Regions from separate parts of the Homo sapiens genome. Here region 1 is linked to region 2. The links come from fine-mapping of genetic effects on gene expression. A gene starts in region 2. The other region holds a variant in brackets. All regions are shown on one strand. Distances are from middle to middle.

Evidence for each region. PIP is the estimated chance that this variant, and not a neighbour inherited with it, causes the effect.
Region 1: its variant is fine-mapped to the expression of ERO1B in monocytes (TOPMed, PIP above 0.99).

The regions. Positions count from the first base shown.
Region 1 is chr1:236,230,287-236,233,197 of GRCh38, reverse strand. ERO1B (endoplasmic reticulum oxidoreductase 1 beta) reads left to right here. Exons shown (of 16, transcript NM_019891.4): 9 at 359-370. The region is part of intron 1 of LOC124904561 (a long non-coding RNA gene); the gene reads right to left. Among named protein-coding and RNA genes, the nearest start is that of ERO1B, 50 kb to the left of the region's middle. The variant A/G (reference allele first, on the strand shown) is at 1,572.
Region 2 is chr1:236,280,254-236,283,164 of GRCh38, reverse strand. It overlaps ERO1B (endoplasmic reticulum oxidoreductase 1 beta), which reads left to right and starts at 1,207. Exons shown (of 16, transcript NM_019891.4): 1 at 1,207-1,483. The coding sequence starts at 1,382. RefSeq lists silencers at 863-1,452, 1,493-1,542 and an enhancer at 1,613-1,812.

The DNA.
Region 1 (2,911 bases), 50 kb after region 2:
AGCTGGGATTACAGGTACATGCCACCATGCCTGGCTAATTTTTGTATTTTTAGTTGAGACAGGGTTTCACATGTTGGCCAGGCTGGTCTCAAACTCCTGACCTCAGGTGATCCACCCACCTTGGCCTCCCAAAGTCCTGGGATTACCGCCGTGAGCCACCACGCCTGGCCAAAATGTGCAAATCTTATACTCTTTGACCTGTATTCTGATTAAGAGGACTCATTTGCAGGGCGTCTACTCAGTGACCAAGGTTTGTGATATAATTAATAGTTTAACAGTTTTAATCTCAAAAAATAGTATTGGGATCTGAGCTATGTAAGACATTTTCTAAAATCTTTTCTATTATTTTCTCTTTTAGGCGAAGATGATGGTGAGCAAAACTCATGTTTGTTTGTTTCAAGTGTGGAGGAAATTTTTTGTAACAATCAGAATTTGATTTTTCCTTTATGGAATTCAAAAGAAAGTATTCCTGTTTTCTAAGAAAATAGCTACTAATGAATGGTGACCAAAAAAAAAAAGATTATTTTATATATATCAAGTTATCCTATGTTAAAAAAAAAAGACCATTTTTCCTAAATGCTTAGTTTGTAAATCAATTCACATTACAAGTTCCCCATTTTCTGGTTATTATATAATTTACTTGAATATGTCCTGAGGAAGTGGGGAGAAGGAGTTAAGGTAGTTTTACCAGATAATTTGTCTTGTGACCTCTTTATTTTCTTATTGACTGAAATTTCTAACCTCAGGTATCAATATAATACTTAATTTGATGACGAGCAATTTATTAACAATTGATTATTGAATGAATGTTGGTTAAAAGATACCCCCAAAATAGCCAAAATAATTATTTCAACTGAATGTTTACCTCTCTGTGTTCAGGGGCACTGATGGGCATTGTCCAGGGTAGGAAGATGTTTAAAACATGGTGCTTTCCCTCTAGGAGCTGAGGATATATAGGATAGTAGGAAAGATAAGCACTGTACATAAACAATGGTAATGAGGTAAAGAAATACTCCATAGATGGTACAAACAGTAGGTGATATATATAGCTCCTTAGAGGAGAAACAGATCGTATCTCACAGGAGCGATGTGGGAAAGCTTACTGGAGGAGGGGTAGCATTTGAGGTGAATTTTGAATAATGGGACAGATTTAGATCCGTACAATTGGATAGTGCATGTTGGAGGAAACAGCATGCAGCTGGGAGTTGAGACAAGTCAGGCATGTTTGGGGAGACAGTAAAGAGACCCTTTTAGTGGTAGGTAAGACTATATAGTGGTAGTTTAAATTAGATTGATAGAGGCCATATTTTTTAGTACGTTGGGTACTAGACTTTTCCTGTTGGCACTTGAGGTGTTTTGAATCACAAGTGATATAATGATAAATGATCCTTACTATATGTTGAATGAATTAATTTGTTAGACGTTTTCATTTTTGTACAAAGTATGAAGACTCTCAGGAGGCAAAGTAATTCCCCACCGTCTAGTTTATCCCTAGACTCCTTACTCAGCTCATCTGAGTGTTCGGTTTTTCTATAATTTCTATCATTCTCAATTTAAAAAAAAACAACATC[A/G]AGGATAGGTAACGCAGGAAGTGCATTAACAATTTTGATTCTTATTGACTGCTCTCTTTTCTTTCTCTTTCCCCAACTCAGAAGAAGGTTACAGGGCCAGGAATGGTTCTTTTTTTTTTTTTTTTTCAAGTGTTTAACATGTTTTGAAATATGTATACATTGTGGAATGGGTATATTGAGCTAATTAGCTCACATACCATTTTTTTGGCGAAAACACTTAAAATCGCAGCAATTTTCAAGAATACAATACGTTGTAATTAACTGTAGTCAGCATGTTCTACAATAAATCTCTTGAACTTACTGCATTTCTTTAACTGAAATTTTGTATCCCTTGACCAGCATCTCCCTGACCCCAGGAATGTTCTTCAGCATTAGTACACAGATTAGTCAAGCCCTTCTGTATTCTATTAACTTTCCTGAAGAATTATATTGAAAATTAAGAGATTTTTTAGCTGTCCCTTAAAACTTATTAGTCTTAGAAAATTGAGGAAATATTTTTAGTTTTATTGGATTAGGAAAAATGGAATAATCAATAGTTGGACGTTTGTGTTAATTATAATTCCTTATTTTCTTGGAATATTTAAAAAGCACTATGGTTGTTATGAAAAGCAAATTTGAGATCGTTAAAATGTTTGCCCTATGTTTTCAGATATTTACACCTTCAATGAATAAGATTTATATACTTTTTTTTTTTAAAAGAGGCAGGATCTTGCTATGTTGCCCAGGTTGGATCCGATCTCCTGGGCTCAAGCAATCCTTCCCCCTCAACCTTCTGAGTTAACTGGGGCTACAGGTCCAAGCCACTGTGGCCAGCTCATATTTTGACTGAAATGTTTTCTTAAAAAATTTAATAGTCAAAATATTTGTAAAAACACTCTCTTAAAGTTACTTAAATTATTTGTAGGTTTTATTTCCTAGAACCATATGGTTATTTTTCTATTTTACCTGAAGCAGTAGACATTTTAGAGAGATTACTTAATCTGTCATAATTTTTTTTTTTTTTTTTTTTTTTTTTGAGACAGGGTCTCACTCTGTCACCCAGGCTGGAGGGCAGTGGTATGATCTCGGCTCACAGCAACCTTAGCCTCCTGGGTCCAAGCAATTCTCCTGCCTCATCCTCCCGAGTAGCTGGATTACAGGCCTGCACCTCCATACCCGGCTAATTTTTTGTATTTTTAGTAGAGATGGGGTTTCGCCATGTTGGCCAGGCTGGTCTTAAACTCCTGGCCTCAAGTGATCAGCCCACCTCGGCCTCCCAAAGTGCTAGGATTATAGGCATGAGCCACCATGCCCTGCAGAAAGATTTTATAAACCTAATTTATTCTACTTTATAAATGACC
Region 2 (2,911 bases):
CAAGAGAGACAGAAGAGTTAGGGTCACAAGAGAAGGCATGTGACGAGGGAAGCAGAGAGAGTGAAGGAGATGTGAAGTCATGAGGTAAGGAATGCAGGTGGCCTCTGGAAGCTGGAAAAGGTAAGGAAACACATTGTCCCTGAGAGCCTCCAAAAGGAACACAGCCCTACAGGTCCATTTTGGACACCTGATCTCCAGTACTATAAGGTAATGAATTTCTTTTGTTGTATGCAACTAAATGTGTGATAGTTTCTTACAGCATCAATGAGAAACTAATACACGCTACATAAACACAAGGGAGATGTATTACTCGTTTTGTAGAAATCAAAGGCATTAATAAAACTAATAGCAGTTACCATTTATTGAGTGCTTCCTAGGTGCTAGGCACTATACTCAGCTCTTTCTGTATCTAATCTTATGTAGCCCTAGAACAAGATATGAGGTGGGAATTAAGGCCCAATAACTAGCTAGAATGTTTTAGAGTTGGGATCTGCGCCCAATCTATGTCACTCTAAGTTTTTTTTTGTTTTACCCCATCCCCATATTTCATCATAAGCCTTTGGGTTTGTCTTCATTCTTTAGCATGCGTTATACTCGCACGTGTCAACCTAGGAGTCGGGCTGGGGCGGGGCAGGAGATGACATCCACATCTAGGGTGCATGAAATTAAAAAAGAGCCGAAGCCATCTCTACAAGTCACAGGTAGCTTACATAGGCACCCACAGCAGATGTGAGGCTACAGAAAAATGAATGAGACAAAGAATACGCTTCAGACCGAAAGTCAAAGATCCCGCACCGTCCGTTCCTAACTCGCCCGCGTACTGGGTGAATCCTAGAGCCTGGCGTCTGCGAGGACTCCAGGAGCGACAGCAGGGACCGACGCAGAGAGGTCCTCAGCCTGGTTTCCCGGAGAAGAGGTCGCCCCGCTTCCCCCGCCCGCACCCCCCGGTGTTTTGGAGGCCCGCGTGGTCCCGCCTCATTGGCCGCCGCGGAGCCCGAGGCCTCGGGGAGGCGGGGCGGCCTTCGCAGTTGTAGTTCCCGAGTCCTCTCGTTCAGCGGCTCCGCCTTCCTGCCGCGGCGCCTAGGCGACCGCCCAGGACCACAACTCCCACAAGGCCCCGCGCTTGGGGGCGTGGCCGAGGAGCCAAGCGAGCCGGGGGCGGGGCCGCCTGGGGGATGAAGTGGGGGCGCTCGCCTTTCCTGCCTCACTCGCAGCTGCCGGGTGTTGGGGAAAGAGTCGCCTGCCTCCGGACTGGAGTGCAGACCTCTGACCCTGGAGTCGCTCGGCCGCTGGGAACCGTCCCCTTGGGTCGTCGCCTGGGCCGCCCGTCGTTCCCCGGCCCCGAGGGGTCCGGCTGGCCGCGGTGTGGGTAGAGGTCAGCATGAGCCAAGGGGTCCGCCGGGCAGGCGCTGGGCAGGGGGTAGCGGCCGCGGTGCAGCTGCTGGTCACCCTGAGCTTCCTGCGGAGCGTCGTCGAGGCGCAGGTAAGCCCGAGTGATAGCGGGCCGGGAACCCCCGGCCGAACACCCGCGGCCGCTACACACGGGCCGCGGCTGTGACGCGGGGAGGGCCGGGCAGGGCCGGGCCAGAAAAGAGGTGATTTCTGGCGAGCAGAAAACCCGGGGAGCAGAGACCTGACCGTCCAGTGCGGGAAACATCTGCGAACCGCCCGCAGGGTGGGGGGACGGCGACACTCCGGGTAATGGCAGTCAAAAGAGGAAGATGGTGACGGTCCCCCTGAGCTGTTTTCGTTTTTTCCTCTCGGATGTGTTAAGCGGCTGGGAGTGTGGCGGGAGATGGGACGGGCATGAACCACCTCGGCTGTCTTGCGAAGGGAGCGAGCGCCCAGAGAAACGGTGACGTCCTTCCCTTCAGGAGTTAGTGAGGGAGGGAGACTGAGAGTTGGGGGCACTCCGCAGACCCCCGAGGCCCCGCCAGGCGCAGGGGATTGGGAGGGGGCAAGACTTCACTCGAACTGTCGGACTAGAGCTTTCTGGGCTTTTACTCTTCCTCGAGCACCTTCCCTTGCTCAAGATTGCTTTATTTTTACCCAGCTGAGCTGTGTCTGCCAAGTGGCATCGCCAGGTAAGTCCCAATACGAGACTGGGGGGGTCTGAGTGGGGCGTTGTGGCTCGTGGATGGAGGCTCTGGCTCTGGCAGTCGTGAGGTGCTGGCTGGTTGTTGATGTGAAGCGATGATTACAAGTGTTCTCAGTGTGCTAGAAATCTGAGGCTTAGCTGACCAGATCCTTTCGCCTTCAGAGAGGTGTTTGCTTCTATTCAGTAGAATTTGAATTGATTGCCAGGTGCTGCTGCTTGTTGTCTGCACCTGCTGCAAGGAGGCAGCACTGCTGAGGGCCAAAAAAATAAAACGAAGGTCTCAGGTGGCCTGATGATGAGGGGAGATGTCATTTGAAGCAATTAGTGCTCATCCAAGAAAAATTGAAGGTGACTCTGAGTGTAACCGTGAAAACATGTTTTTCTGAATTGAGTCACTTTATTTCATGGTTTTATGGTGCCCTGCACTAAATCCCAGAGTGCCTGAATAGTCCGTTTGTGTCTGTGTTTGAACCATAAAAATAAAAGGGGCAAATTTTTGGTATTGGGGAACATGTTAAAATGCAGATTCTCTGGCCCTACCTCCACATGTATTGATTGGATCTGGAATATGGCCCAGATATCAGCATTTTAAACAAACATTGCAAGTACAGTATAACTGTAGCAAAGTTATCTTTTGACTACCTCTTGGACCTCACTTGGAAAACACTGAGATGGAATAGATAGTGGTAATCTGGGCAGACTTACTAAAGTAAATTTTCCAAATTGTCTTTGGCAAAATTATTTTCTAGTCACTAGTTGAGTGTTTCTGAGTGAAATTTACAATTCGATATTTTTCTGAAATGAGAGTTCCCA